Linked DNA regions of Homo sapiens: region 1 is linked to region 2. A link means that fine-mapping ties the variant in region 2 to the expression of a gene that starts in the linked region. Tissue or cell type: whole blood. Region 2 holds a variant in brackets; the other region holds the start of a gene. All regions are shown on one strand. Distances are between the middles of the regions.

Region 1 (8,109 bases), 90 kb before region 2:
TATTAATTCCTTTCACACGATAAGAAAGATACAATGTAAGTTATAATGTTTCCATTTGTCATTAAAATAAACCTTCCAGAAAGAAACACATTGATGGCTTTCCCTGTGTCTGCTATACTAAGAGCATTTCAGGGTTGCTTGCTGGGATCCTCATATTTTGAAGTTATGTTAAGTGCTTTAATTTTAATCTTCCCTGGGAACTGTGGTGGACAAGTCTCTGAGTGCTGGTGAGAATTAACAACTTATATTTCTTTAAGCCATTTTGAATGCTAGTACTTTTTTTTTGCTGTGGTTATGTAATTTTTGAACTCTCTTTTTTATACAACTCATCAATATTCATTACTAATAATAGATTATTTAAAATTAACACATTTTAATTATAAAAGCAGTATACAATAAAAAATATAGATAAGCAAAATGAAGTAAAATAAAATCCATCCTTTACTATTTGGAGATAAGGATGAACTTACCAGCATTTTTATAATGTAATATATTTAAATACAAAAAGTGTACTTTTATAATATACTATACTATTAAAATAAACTGTACAGATTTTACAAAGATGAGATCACGTTATTCTGTTTCGAATTATTCTTTTCTTATTTAATAGATAGTATGTATCTTATTAGTCATTATTTTTAAATCTATCATTAAAAATAGGAATTAAACTTGTATTTTTCTCTAAAATAATACATGCTTAATGTAGACAAGTGAAAAAATACAGGTAATTACAATGGAAAAACAACTGTTAATATAACTATGCAGAAATACGTTTTTGATTTCATTTTAGTCTACATACTTCTGAGCTTTTAAAAATGAGTATATATATATAAATGTTATGTGTACATTTTTATAAACAATAACACATTTTAGATTCTGTTTTATACATGAATTTTCACTGAGCTGTGTCTATACCTTTTTTGTCTTTACACAGCTAAATCATAATTTTAATGGCTGTGCAATAACCTCATTCTATGATGTATCACCGTTTATTTACCAAATCACCTGTGTTGAACAGTAGGTCATTTTAATTTTTTTGTTATTGTTTACATTTCCTCAGTTGACCTTACAGAAGACATATTTTGACACTTGTTCAATTTCTGCAGAATAAATGGTAAGGCTTTTGAAACAGAATGCCAGATTTCCCTTGGAAAGCTTGTACTAGCTGACAGTCCTGCCAGTAGCACAGGAAGCCTGCTTCCACACACTCCATGTCCTCACTGCCCCTGGATTTTCCAGCCAGAGTGTCTTTGACTGCAGCTAATGAGAACCACGAGGTGGTATGGGTTCAACATTGACAGTTTGGTTTCAAATCTTGATTCTGTTACCCACTAGCTGTGTGACATGGCAACTTTTCTGGGCTTTCATTTCCTCATCCATATTCTAAGGATTAAATGAGATGATAGACATAATGCATTTAGAATTATCCCTGGCACATATGAAACAGTAAACAAACATTAGCTGTTTTATTTCTTACATAATTAAAATGATATAGTGATACATTGGTTTGATGTTGTCATATTGCTAGTTTGTATATTGTTTCTTAATTCAGTCCGAAGCAAAGATTTTTCTGTTTGATTCTAATCTTAAAAATAATACTAAATCAGTTCATCTTCTAAATTTTGCAACAGCTCCAAATAATACTATTCTGACCTCAGATATGAAATGTAACATTACCTTGCAGTGACTAATCTTGCATACTGTAGGATGAACTTCTGAGATTAAACATCTCCAGGAAAGCTCATTAATTTGGGAAAAGAAGAGCAGGTGAGGAGAATTTGCTTTTAAAAAGTTTTAATAGCCATAATAATAATTTATTTACAGAATCAAGTACAAACTCTAAGACTTCATAACTCTAAATACATTGCAATGCATTTTCGAATAACGCAATGTGGCTGACAATGGCTGAGGCGACGGGCAGACTAATCAAGTGCAGAAATTGGTGATTGTTTTCATAGCACATGCCAGACTGCATCTCCAGCTGGAAATTCCATAAAAGAAATAAATAATAGTATCACCCTTGGGTGCACTACTGAAAATACAATATCTGGTTTTGTGAGTGCCAGTCCATTCTGCTCAGACACTGGTACCATACTATTGTTTCAGAGGTATCATAGTACCGTCACAGTACTGTCTCAGACAAAATGGGATACTTCAGAGAAAAGCAGCCAAGAGAACTAAAGTCCTATCAGTTAAGGAAGAGTAGAAGAAATCTGGAGTGTTCAGCCTGGAAAAGATTTAGGGGATCGTGGTGGCAGATTTAGAATAGTTGAGCAATGAGACTTGCTCTCTCTCCTTGGGTGGAAACTGGATAAATGGACAGAAGTTACAAAGAAGCAGATTCTGGTTATTAAGGTTCAATGTAAAGAAAAGCTAAATTAGCACTATAATGCAAATAGCTTTACGTATTCCTTCCACAAGGCCACATCAGTTGTATTGTGGGTTGTGTGTGTTCGTGTGTGTGTGTGTATTTAACACTTATTCTAAAAAGCCAATGTATTTAGGGGTTCTGAGGAATTTATAGATCTAGTAAACTGTGGGCCTTTTAATGCATAATTTGTGAACTAATCAATTTTCTCATTTTAATACAACCTCCCTCCCTCCCTCTTTTCCTTCCTTCCTTTCTTCCTTCCTTCCTTCCTCCTTTTCCTCTGTTCCTTTCTTTTCTTTTCTTTTTTTTTGTTATACTTTAAGTTCTAGGGTACATGTGCACAATGTGCAGGTTTGTTACATATGTATACATGTGCCATGTTGGTGTGCTGCACTGGTTAACTTGTCATTTACATTATACTACAGGGCTACAGTAACCAAAACAGCATAGTACTGGCATAAAAACAGACACATAGACTAATGAAACACAATAGAGAACCCAGAAACAAACTCATACATCTACAGTAAACTTGTTTTCAACAAAGGTACCGAGAATATATGTTGGAGAAAAGGCAGTCTCTTCAATAAGTGGGGCTTGGAAAACTGGATATCCATAGGCAGAAGAATGAAACTAGACCCCTATCTCTTGCCATATACAAAAGTCAAATTAAAATTGATTAAAGACTTAAATCTAAGACCACAAGCCATGAAATTACTAAAAGAAAATAGCCTACCTCAGCTTCCCACATGCTAGGATTATAAGCATGAGCCACTGTGCCCAGTGATACAACATTTATGACTGCAAAGTAACTCATCTCCCCTTTGCAGTTAACAGCACTTTGTGGGGAGATAATTTGAGACCATGTTGGTTGTCATCAAACCTTCACTCAGATTCAGCATCATTTGATGCTTTCTTCTTCAATCAACTACTACTATAATAGTTGCCAAATAATGACCTTCCAATTCTACCTTTCCTTCTGCATACAGTAATTAGCATTCTTATGTAAGGAATAATTATTTGTTTGTTTATGTAATTTGAACTCATGAATTCCTAGTTTATTTAATGGGCTATAATCTGCTATTATCATTTGTTTATTTTTTAAAAGTTTTATTTTAAGTCCAGGGGTATAAATGCAGGTTTGTTACATAGGTAAACTTGTGTCATGGGAGTTTGTTGTACAGATTTTGTCACCCAGATCTTAAGCCTAATACCCATTAGTTATTTAATTATTAGTTATTTTTCCTGATTGTCTTCCTTCTCCCACCCTCCAGCCTCTGAAAGGCCCCAGTGTGTGTTGTTCCTCTCTGTGTGTCCATGTGTTCTCATCATTTAGCTCCCACTTATAAATGAGAACAGGCAGTATTTGGTTTTCTGTTCCTGTATTAGTTTGCTAAGGATAGTGGCCTCCAGTTCCATCTGTGTTCTTGCAAAGGACATATCTCTTTCTTTTTTATTACTGCATAGTATTCCATGGTGTATATTGATCACATTTTCTTCATCCAGTCTACTGTTGGTGGACATATAGGTTGATTCCATGTGATATGGTTTGTCTCTGTGCCTCCACCCAAATCTCATCTTATAGCTCCTATAATTCCCATGTATTGTGGGAGGGACCCAGTGGGAGATAATCAAATCATGGGGGTGGGTATTTCCCATACTGTTCTCATGATAGTGATGGGTCTTACGAGATTTGACAGTTTTAAAAACAGGAATTTTCCTGAACAGGGTCATTTTTTTTTTTTTGCCTGCTGCCATCCATGTAAGATGTGATTTGCTGCTCCTTGCCTTCTGCCATAATTGTGAAGCCTCCCCAGCTATGTGGAACTGTAAGTCCAATAAACCTCTTTCTTTTGTAAATTGCCCAGTCTTGTGTATGTCTTTATCAGCAGCAAGAAAATGGACTAATAGAGTAAATTGGTAGCAGTAGAGTGGTGTGCTGCTGAAAAGATACCTGAAAATGTGGAAGTGACTTTGGAACTCGGTAACAGGCAGAGGCTGGAATGGTTTGGAGGGCTCAGAAAAAGACAGGAAAATGTGGGAAGGTTTGGAACTTCTTAGAGACTTGTTGAATGGCTTTGACCAAAAGCCTGATAGCAATATGGACAATAAGGTCTTGGCCGAGGCTGTTTCAGATAGAGATGAGGAACTTGTTGGGAACTGGAACAAAGGTGACTCTTGTTATGTTTTGGCAAAGAGACTGGTGGTATTTTGCCCCTGCCCAAGAAATCTGTGGAACTTTGAACTTGAGAGAGATGATTTAGGGTATCTGACTGAAGAAATTTCTAAGCAGCAAAGCATTCAAGAGGTGACTTGTGTGCTGTTAAAGGCATTCAGTTTTATAAGGGAAGCAGAGCATAAAAATTCGGGAAATTTGCAACCTGATAATTTGATAGAAAAAGAAAACCGGTTTCCTGAGGAGAAATTGAAGCTGGCTGTAGAAATTTGCATAAGTAATGAGGAGCCAAATGTTAATCCCCAAGACAATGGGAAAAATGTCTCCAAGGCATATCAGAGGTCTTCATGGCGGCCCCTCCCATTACAGGCCCAGAGGCCTAGGAGAAAATGCTCTCGTGGGCCAGCCCCATGGTCCCTGTGCTGTGTGCAGTCTAGGGACTTGGTGCCCTGTGTCCCAGCCACTCCAGCCCTGACTAAAAGGGGCCATGGTACAGCTTGGGCTGTTGCTTCAAAGGGTGGAAGCACCAAGCCTTGGTAGCTTCCATGTGGTCTTGAGCCTGTGGGTGCCCAGAAGTCAAGAACTGAGGTTTGAGACCCCCTGCCTAGACTTCAGAAGATGTATGGAAATGGTACCAGCTCTTCTTTTTCTTTCTTCTTCTTCTTCTTCTTTTTTTTTTTTTTTGAGACAGTGTCTCACTTTGTCAACCAGTCTGGTCACAAACTCCTGCCTGGCCCCCCCAAGTAGTTGAGACTATAGGCATACACAACCATGCTCTACTAATTTTTTGTATTATTTGTAGAGATGGGGTTTTGCCATGTTGCCCAGGATGGTCACAAACTCCTGAGCTCAAGTGATCTGTCCACCTTGGTTTCCCAAAATGCTGGGATTACAGGTGTGGGCCACTGTGTCTAGCCTTTGTATCAGCTCTTCTTTGTACATCTGCTAGAATTCAGCTGTGAACTTGTCTGGACCTGGGCTTTTTTTGATTGGTAGGCTATTTATTACCACCTCAATTTCAGAACTTGTTATTGGTCTACTCAGGGATTCAATTTCTTCTTGGTTCAGTCTTGGGAGGGTATGTGTGTCCGGGAATTTATCCCTTTTTTCTAGGAAGGGTGTGTGTGTCCATGAATTTATTCATTTCTTCTATATTTTCAAGTTTATGTGCATAGAGGTGTCCATAATATTCTCTGATGGTTGTTTGTATTTCTGTGAGTTCAGTGGTAATATCCTCTTTGTCATTTCTGACTGTGTTTATTTGAATCTTCTCTCTTTTCTTCTTTATTAGTTTAACTAGTGGTCTATCTATTTTATTAATTTTTTCCAAAAACTAGCTCCTGGATTCATTGATCTTTTGAATAGTTTTTCATGTCTCTATCTCCTTCAGTTCAGCTCTGATTCTGGTTATTGCTTCTCTTCTGCTGGCTTTGGGATTTGCTTGGCCTTGGTTCTCTAGTTCTTTTAGTGGTGATGTTAGGTTGTTAACTTGAGATCTTTCTAACTTTTTGATGTGGGCATTTAGCACTATAAATTTCCCTCTTAATACTGCCTTAGCTGTGTCCCAGATATTCTGGTACATTGTATCTTTGTTCTTGTTAGTTTCAAAGAACTTCTTGATTTCTGCCTTCATTTCATTGTTTACCCAGAAGTCCTTCAGGAGCAGGTTGTTCAATTTCCATGTAGCTGTGTGGTTTTCAGTGAATTAATTTCTTTCTTTCTTTTCTTTTTTTTGAGATGGAGTCTTGCTCTGTCATGCAGCTTAAAGTACAATGGCTTAATCTCAGCTCACTGCAACATCCTCCTCCTGGGTTCAAGCAGTTCTGTCTGCCTCAGCCTCCCAAGCAGCTGGGATTACAGATGCCCACCACTACACCTGGCTATTTTTGTATTTTTAGTAGAGATGGGGTTTTGCCATGTTGGCCAGGCTGGTCTTGAACTTCTGACCTCAGGTGATCTGCCTACCTTGGCCTCCCAAAGTGCTGGAATTATGCTCACGCCACTGTGCCTGGCTGTGAATTTCTTAATCCTGAGTTCTAATTTGATTGTGTTGTGGTCTGAGAGACTGTTTATTATGAATTTCAGTTCTTTTGCATTTATTTGTTGAGGAGTGTTTTACTTCCAATTATGTGATCAATTTTGGAGTAAATGCCATGTGGCATCAAGAAGAATGTAGATTCTGTTTTTGGTGAGGGTTCCATATACATCTATCAGGTCCATTTGCTTCAGTGCTGAGTTCAGGTCTTGAATATCTTTGTTAATTTTCTGTCTCAGTGAGCTGTCTAATATTGTCAGTGGAGTGTTAAAGTCTCCCACTATTATTTTGTAGGAGTCTAAGTCTCTTTGAAGGTCTCTAATAACTTGCTTTATAGATCTGGGTGCTCCTGTGTTGGGTGCATGTATATTTAGGATAGTTGTTTCCTCTCGTTGAATTGAACCCTTTACCATTATGTAATGTCCTTCCTTGTCCTTTATGGTCTTTGCTGGTTTAAAGTCTGTTTTGTCAGAAACTAGGATTGCAACCCCTCCTTTTATTCTGTTTTCCATTTGCTTGGTAGATTTTTCTCCATCCCTTTATTTTGAGCCTCTGTGTCTCATTGCATGTAAGATGGGTCTCTTGAAGACAGCGTACCTATGGGTCTTTATCCAGCTTGCCACTCTGTGTCTTTTAATTGGGGCACTTAGCCTATTTACATTTAAGGTCAGTATTGATATGTGTGGATTTGATCCTGTCATGATGTTAACTGGTCATTTTGAAGACTTACGTGGTTACTTTATAGTGTCACTGGTCTGTGTATTTCAGTATGTTTTTGTAGTGGCTGGTAATAATCTTTCCTTTCTATATTTAGTGCTTCCTTCAGGAGCTCTTGTAAGGCAGGTCTGGTGGTAAAAAAAATTCCCTCATCATTTGCTTGTCTGAAAAGGATCTTATTTCTCCTTCGCTTATGATGCTTAGTTTGGCTTGATATAAAATTCCAGGTTGGAATTTCTTTTCTTTTAAAATGTTGAAGATTAGCCCCTAATCTCTTCTGTCTTGTGGGTTTCATCTGAGAGGTCCACTGTTAGTCTGATGGGCTTCCCTTTGTAGGTGATCTGGCCTTTCTCTCTAGTTGCCTTTAACATTTTCTCCTTCATTTCAACCTTGGAGAATCTGAAGATTATGTGTCTTGGGGATGAGCTTCTCATGGGGTATCTTACTGGGGTTCTATGCATTTTCTGAATTTGAATGTTGGCCTCTCTAGCTAGGTTGGGGAAATTCTCATGGATAATATCCTGAATTATGTTTTCCAAATTGGTTCCATTCTCCCCATCTCTTTCAGGTTCACTGATCAGTTGTAGATTTGGTCTCTTTACAAAATCCCATATTTCTTGGAGGTTTTGTTCATTCTGTTTCATTCTTTTTTCTCTGGTCTTGTCTGCCTGTCTTATTTCAGAAACACAGTCTTCAAGCTCTGAAATTCTTTCCTCCACTTGGTCTATTCTGCTATTAATCCTTGTGATTGCATTAAGAAATTGTTTTATTGTGTTTTTCAGCTCTATCAGGTTAGTTACATTCTTCTCTATA
Region 2 (8,109 bases):
GTCTTTATTTTTCAAACACTATAAGAAATACTCAAATGAAAAATTTTATCTTTCAGTTCTTTTGTTAAAATGTAAAATTTTATTTTATATTTTAAATTTGAAGACTGCTTTATTGTTCACTGAATTTTCTTTTTGAAACATAGCATCCTGACTTTGTTTTATGACTGTAATGCTCTCTTAATTCCTGTGAGGTTATTTATTACAAATGACTGCTGCTTCTCTCCATATTGCTTTTCTTTGCTGAGTTCTGTTTTTGTTAAAATTTTTGTTTGTTTGTTTAGGTCTTTCATGTTGAAGCTTTCCTCAAAAGGCTAACATGCTTGGCTTACTGTTTGTATTTAAAGAGTGAGGCACTAAGAATCTGACTGAGACACTAAAATCTGGCTGGGCTTATTGATTGGGCAAAGATCTAGTAGTTTATGTGGGAGAAGACACCCAGCTCTCAATATTAGTTCTTTTCCCTTGAGCTGATCAAGCTCTCCAGAAAAGAATTCCCCAATTTTCCGACTTCTAGTATTTTACAAGTTGATAGGGAGAAGGAGATCGATGGTTTAATTATCTAGAGTAAACCTCTCCTTTCCTGATGAAATAGTGTATGAGAAGTTTTCTGGCTGGATGGGGTGGGTGAAAGGGTGGGAAGATAACTGTCCTCTATATAGGTTTTCAGCCACACTCTTGTTTTTAGTCCCACTCTTCACCCTTCACCCTCTGTAGTAAGCAGTTTCTCAAATTCCTCATGCTTCCTGGGATTCTGGAGCACCAACTAGCTTCCTTGTATAGTGGCTTCCCAGTTCCACGCACTTAGGTTTCATTTCCTCTGCTTTGCTAGTTAACACTGGCCCATCTACTTTCTGTCTTCCAAAATTATAATATCTCTTATCTGTTGTTATCCCCTTTACTATTCTGTTATTATTCTGGTGATATTTTAGGATGGAATAGAATAAAGCAGGTATATTTAAACTACCATGTTTGATGAGTAGCCTCACTAGGAAGTTGCAAAGACATTGTTACATTGAAAGCCTCAAGGATTCCACACTTGAGAATAGATGGTTCAACTGTTTTTGATGCCAGTAGAGTAGGGATCTTACCACCCTTTGTTCATTTCATCCCACACAGTACAGATGTACCAATAATTCTTCCTACCTGCCAGATATGCTGATAATTTTCCTTACCCACCAGATGTCCACAGTCCCACCTCCCTTTCTTGGAGTACATTAGCACAAGCTGATGAGGTTTAAGGAAAATAGTCCACACAGGGCAATCAGTGGTTGAGGTGCTGGATGATAACGAAGTGAAGTTCTGAGCATGTAGGTCAATAAGAACAATTGGTGTCATTGCTGGGCACACAAAATGGGACATTCTTGCTGAGAGTAAGGGCTGGGCATTCTGCCTGAGCAACTCACTTTCTAGTCAGCTTCTGGGCTTAATGGTCCTTTGTCAGTTACTCTTTCAACTCCTATCAGGCTGTGGCCCTTTACCTTCCTTGAACAACTTCCTAAGGACTACTTCCAGACTTTGTAGGTTGCCTTGTACTCACTGCCCCATTTCTATTGCTCCTTGTCCATTTCTTCTGTTTATCTAGGGGAACTCTTTGTTTCTCTAAGGGGTACATCCTTATTTCTACTGTCTTCTCAAATTCAATCATCTTGTTCTTTAGCATTTGATTTATTGGCTCATTAAACTTGGAACCCAAATTACTAGCAACCTCAAAACAAGTTTTCTTTCTAGGTTACTGGTCTAATGTTTAACTTATTTTAGGTAACTGACCTAATGTTTAAATATATAAATTCTATTGCACCAAAAAAGGGAAGAAAAACCACCAGTCAGACCTCCATCTTGAAACAGTCCAATGTTTATATGTTGTCATGGACCTTTGATGACTTAAAATTGTGTCTCCGTCCAAGTCATTTGGAACTCTTGAAATAGTCAGCTAGCCAAAAGTTATTTTTAAGTGCTAATTTTGTGCCAGCTTTTGGAAAAACAAAAGTAAATAGGAAGGAAAAGATTTCTTGCTCAAGAAGAACAAGAGTTCTAGTTTGAGAGTTAGGCAATGAGCATCTAAACCAAAAATGTATGTAAGAGTACGAGAGAGTTAGGTTTCAAAGATGGTAGTCTCTAGAGCAAGATTATGGGCTAGAGATCTTAGGAAGTGCAGAAACGTCAAAAAGAGGAAGAATAGCAGCATATTCAGAAGGTGAACCCTGTAACTTGGGAAATCCAGCTGAAACCACAGATGCTGATTTCCTATTTGAACTGAACCTGTCTTTTTTCTTTTGAGACAGGCTCTTATCTCTGTCACCCAGGCTGGAGTGCAGTGGCACAATCATGGCTCACTGCAGCCTTGATCTTCTGGGCTCAGATGATCCTCTCACCTCAGCCTCTCAAGTAGCTGGGATGACAGGCATGTGCCACCACCCCTAGCTAAGTGTTTTGTAGAGATGGGGTTTCACCATGTTGCCCAAGCTGATCTTTAACTCCTGGGCTCAAGTGGTTCACCCACTTCAGCCTCCCAAAGTGCTGGGATTACAGACACGAACTCTCATGCTCGCCTTGTTGTTTCTTAAAAAAATCACATTGCTGAGCATAAGAGGAAAAATTGAATCTTTTTCCTATAATAAATCAATCGCTGGTAAAACTTAAAATGAAGAGCTAAAAGTTCTTCCAGATAACACATAAATGTCTTTGCAGGAAAGTATCTCACTATCAAATCAATCTATGCAGTTAGGCCAGGTAATTCTCCTTTCTAAGCTGATTTTGTGGCTGAACTTTTATTGTATATTGAAGGTGATAAGTAAGATAAAGGAAAGACAGTTTGGATGAGGATAGCATTCAGCATTGTGTTCAGTTTATGCAGTTAGATTTTTTTTTCTATTTTGAAATCTTATTTATTCTTTCAAAATGCTTTTTAGGAAAACATTTGAAATAGATGTTTTTATTATCCAAGGCGCTTGTGATGTGGCAGGTTTTCTAACTGTGGTCAGATTCAGATGGTGAATAGTTCTTCATAATAACACTGATGTTTGGTGTGCCAGTTTCTTTTTATGTAGTTATAATGGATATCGTTTTTGTTCATTTTCCCCTTGTTTCCCTCATCCTATGGTATTTTTTACCATTCACCTCCCAGTATAGTATGAAAAAAATTATCTCCTGAATCACCTGTGTCTCTCAACAGGTCAGTTACGATTTGGTCAACTTGGAAACTATCCATAGAGCTAACCTGAATGCTTTGGGCCAGTAACTCCACTTAGTTCTCAACTGCAATGAGGGATTTCTATTTGATTGAAGTGTGGAGGAAAGGCTCCGAGCCAGGGGGAACACAATTGCTGACAGACTGGCATGATAAAGGCCCTAATGAATGCACTTTATAGAGCACAAAGGTAGTGTCTTTTTTGAGTCAAAATTTGGAGTCTGACTCAGTTCATATCCAGTCTCTGTCACTTGCCAGTTGTGTGACTTTGAGCAAGTCCTTGCTGAACCTCGATTTCTTCATCTGTAAAACAGACACCTTAATGTATCTGCTTTACAATGATGCTATACTCTTTAAATAAGGTTATATGCAAGATACTGAATATATATAATAGCACAAAATAGGTGCATGATAAGTTAAAGACAAAAATAGAGAGCTGTAGATACTAATACTATTCTCATTTTCAGATTTTTACTTGATAATGATGAAAACACTTCAAGGACATTGGCTAAATGTTTAAAACAGGCAAGTTGGGCAATAGAACCTAATTTAAAAAAAGACAGGA[A/T]GGTAGTGGACAGAGCAGCATTGCATAAGCAGTCAGATAGCAACTCTTCCTTGTAGTCTGAAGCAGATTTACTAACATAAATATTTGAATATTTTGAGTATTCCTTAATAAGTCAGGCATCCATGACTGACTAAGCATCATTAATACAAAGTATCTTATGTATCCTTAGTACTTAAAAGTTGTATTATTAAAGGGAAAATAAAATTGGAATATTGCAGAGGAAAAGTTATTCATAGGTTGACATAAAAGACATAAAATCTTGTAGTGCATAAGGTTTAATAGTTCTCTTTTTCATAAATCATGAAAAGGGCTTTTCTTCTAATTTGATGGACCATTTCTCTTTCTCCTTCTCCATCTCAGTCTGGTGTAGCACTTGGTGGTGTCCAATGAATATTCATGATGACCGATTTCTTCCCAGCGGCAGCACTACATGTAGAAAGAGAGGTTCTCACTGATCGCTTCTGATCTGTAGAGTACAATTTAAAAACCAGCCTGGTTAATCCACAAACATAAAACTTACCTGTTTTCACAAAACATTGTATTTAGAGTACTAAGATCTGTAAATTGTTATTTTTTTTCTTTCAAATATAGCAATCACATTTTAAAAAGGAATTTTCTGGGTAATTAAAGTAGTTCACCTACTTGCACTAAGCGTTGGTTAGGAAGGCAGCCTTGTGTACAAAGGGCTTTGTGTTTATTCTGTTTCAATGTATGGAACCACAAGGATTTTTTGATTAATTTTCTTTTAGAATTGTTTGTAAATTCAGTATGTACTTGATATTAGGATTTGGTGGAACCACTGCAGAAGGTTTTGAAAGAGCTTCACGATGCCAATGTAACAACTAACAAAATAATTAAATCAGCAGCTGATTATATAATCTATTTACTTAATGGACATAGGATAGATTTTAAAATGCAGATAATGTAAAACATTCACAATTCAATCAATTCTGAACTTATAAACATTGTCTTGGATTCAGGATGTTCCAACTGAGGAGAGATGCTTCTCTGTTATGCTAAGACTCAGGCTCAGGCACACTGAATTTGAAGTAGGTAAGAGGAAGGGAAGGTGAAGGGAGAGAAATGGAGAGACAGGTTGAGCAGCAATTGAGTAGGAAATGCGAGATCTAGCAAAGTCGGTGTGCATTGGTGAGGTGAAGTGTAAATGTCTAAAGAATTTCAGATTCCCTGGTGAAAGGTGCTGTTGCAATAAAAAGCAAAGAGGTGTGAAGTGTGTTGGTACTGGCATGCATGAACATTTACAGTTATTTTAAACACTTTCAAAACACCCTGCCTCCCGTTGCTTTAAAAAAATCTTATTTATTTATTTTAATTGTGTGTGGAGGGCTGGGGGCATTAGGGAATGGAGAGCCTTTGTCAATAAATTCTTAGTTCTCTGATTATAAATAGAGGCACACCAGAGTACCATGTTTTAATTAGAAACCTGGGACCAGAGAGGATTACCTCAGGAATACATTTATTTTCAGCTCACGGAGCTTATAGGATGATCTTATTATTGCAGAAAGCAGTGAAAGAAAGAAGGCTGTGACAGAAGCAGATATCTTGAATAAGAAGAAAGTTTAGAGAAACTTCCCTGAATCAAAAGTTGATTGTTGTTTGCAAAATATATCTTAAAGACAAATCTAGTTAATATTGGGTTTGAAGATTTCATAACATTTCTCAGATAATAGGCTGAAAGAAAATGTATTACCAGTCTGACTGAAAAAGTGTAGCTTGTAATTATTTCTATTTCTTAACAATAACTTGCTCTTACAAGTTAGAAGGGAAAGAGAATTTACCAATATAAGTTTGATTTTATATCAATAAAATTAGAAAATACTTCAAATAATACTGACAAAATATTTTTTGTCACATAAATTTAACACCATGACTGATTTGCCTCAGTTTTTAAAAATTATCTTTAAATAAATTAATAATCTTAGCCCTCCTTTGTGTCCTTCACTGCTATAATGTGAATATGTCCTCCAAAACCCATGTGTTGAAAGCTTTATCTGCAGTGCAATAGTGTTGGGAGGTGGGGAGTTTTGGGAAGTGTTTAGGTAATGAGGACTCTACCCTTATGAATGGATTAATGCCATTATAAAAGGGCTGGATGAGCGGACAACAAATATAGGAAAAAATGCTCACATCACTCATCAGAGAAATACAAATCAAAACCACAATGAGATGCCATCTCATACTAGTCAGAATGGCTATTATTAAACAGTTAAAAAAAAAGATGCTGGTGAGGCTCCAGAGAAAGAGGAATGATTATACACTGCTGGTGGGAATGCAAATTATTTCAGCCACTATGGAAAACAATTTGGAGATTTTGCAAAGAACTTAGAACTCCTTTTCGACCTAGTGATTCCATTATTGGGTATGTACCCAAAGGAAAATAAATTTTTTCTACCAAAAAGACACATACTAGTATGTTCAATAGTGAAGACATGGGATCAACCCAGATGCCCATCTGTGGTAGACTGGATAAAGAAAATGTAGTACATATACATCTTGGAATACTATGCAGCCATAAAATAAAGAAATCATGTCATTTCCAGCAACATGGATGCAACAGGAGGCCATTGTCCTAAGTGAGTTAATTCAGGAACAAAAAATCAAATACTGCATGTCCTCACTTATAAGTGGGAGCTAAGCATTGGGTACACATGGACATAAAGATGAGAACAGTAGACTGTGAGGACTACTAGAAGGGAGAAAGGGAGGAGGGCGAGGGTTGAAAAGTTACCTGTTGGGTACTATGCTTACTACCTGGGTGGTGGGATCATTGGTATCCCAAACCTCACACAATATACCCATGTAACAAACCTGCACATGTATTCCCTGAATCTAAAATAAAAGTTGAAATGATATTTAAAAAAGGGGCTTGATGGAGAGAGTTTGTCTCTTTTTTGCCCTTCTACCACTATACTAAAAAGAGTTTCCAACAATTTATTTCTGAACAGGCATAGAAATTCCCATGAGGTAAACTTAAATGCAAGAGGCAGTGTTTATACTAAAAAATTTGAATATAGAATAATGGCATTCACCTAGATAATTCTGGACAATATAATATACTAATAATGAAAAGAATTTGTTTTTGAAAAACAATTTGAATTACATGGAAAATTTTCTAATTCTGAGTTAACTTGTGTATCCACAATCATAGAAGTGGTCTACTTAGTCACAATTATTTATATCTACAGTCCAATAGAAACAGAATGTGAGCCATAAATCAGAGTCACATATGTCATTTAAAATTTTCCAATGGCCACATTAAAGTGGTAAAAAGAAACAGGTGAGATTAAATCTAATTACATGTTTTATTGAACTCAGTACATCTAAAATATTATTTTAACATATCAGTTTAAAAACTATTGAGATATTTCACATTACTTATAAAATACTAAGTGTATTAGTTCATTTTCATGCTGTTATGAAGAAATACCCCAGACTGGGTAATTTATAAAGAAAAGAGGTTTAATTGGCTCACAGTCCCACATGGCTGGGAAGTCCTCCGGAAACTTACAATCATGGTGGAAGGCATCTCTTCATAGGGTGGCAGGAGAGAGAATGAGTGCCAGCAGGGGAAATACCAGATGCTTATACAACTATTAGATCTCATGAGAACTCACTCGCTATCATGAGAACAGCATGGGGGAAACCGACCCCATGATTCAATTACCTCCCACTGGGTCCCTCCCACAACACGTGGGGATTATGGGGATTATACTTCAAGATGAGATTTGGGTGCAAACACAGCTAAACCATATCACTAAATCTTTGAAATCTGATGTAAATTTTATACTTATAAAACATCTCAATTGGGATTAGCCATATTCTAAGTGCTCAATAATTATATGAGGTTTATAGCCATTATATTGGACAGTGTAGCTCTGTATCATCTGACATGATAGAGTGCCTTCTACACTTAATTGTCTGTGTGGTTGTGTAGATCTACAAGCACAGAGCTGAACAGGATCCCAAAGTAGCTAGGTTGGTATTTTTTTCTTTGTAAAGAAGCTTGCATACTAGTACTACAAAAAATGAAAAATTAAAAAAAAAGGATCTGAAATTTGAACTGTTTTATGCTGCTAGATAGATGTGGTGATTGCTGAAAACATCAATTTTTAAAAACATTAATATGGTATCATTTGTAGAGTTAACAAAGAATAAAATACAAGGTTGCTTTATGGACTTGAATGGACATTTCTCCAAAGAAGATATATGAGTGGCCAATGGGCACATGAAAAGATACTTAACATCACTAGGAAATCATTAGGGCAATATGAATCAAAGCCATAATGCAATATCACTTCACACCCATTAGGATAGCTATTATGAAAGAAAAAGAAAC

The links. PIP is the estimated chance that this variant, and not a neighbour inherited with it, causes the effect.
Region 1: it holds the start of LINC00639, and the variant in region 2 is fine-mapped to the expression of LINC00639 in whole blood (INTERVAL, PIP above 0.99).

The regions. Positions count from the first base shown.
Region 1 is chr14:38,912,870-38,920,978 of GRCh38, reverse strand. It overlaps LINC00639 (long intergenic non-protein coding RNA 639), which reads left to right and starts at 4,097. Exons shown (of 5, transcript NR_039982.1): 1 at 4,097-4,197. LOC105370457 (a long non-coding RNA gene) reads right to left here. Exons shown (of 5, transcript NR_135256.1): 5 at 1,778-1,981.
Region 2 is chr14:38,822,737-38,830,845 of GRCh38, reverse strand. All of the region lies in intron 4 of LINC00639 (long intergenic non-protein coding RNA 639), which reads left to right. Among named protein-coding and RNA genes, the nearest start is that of LINC00639, 90 kb to the left of the region's middle. The variant A/T (reference allele first, on the strand shown) is at 3,753.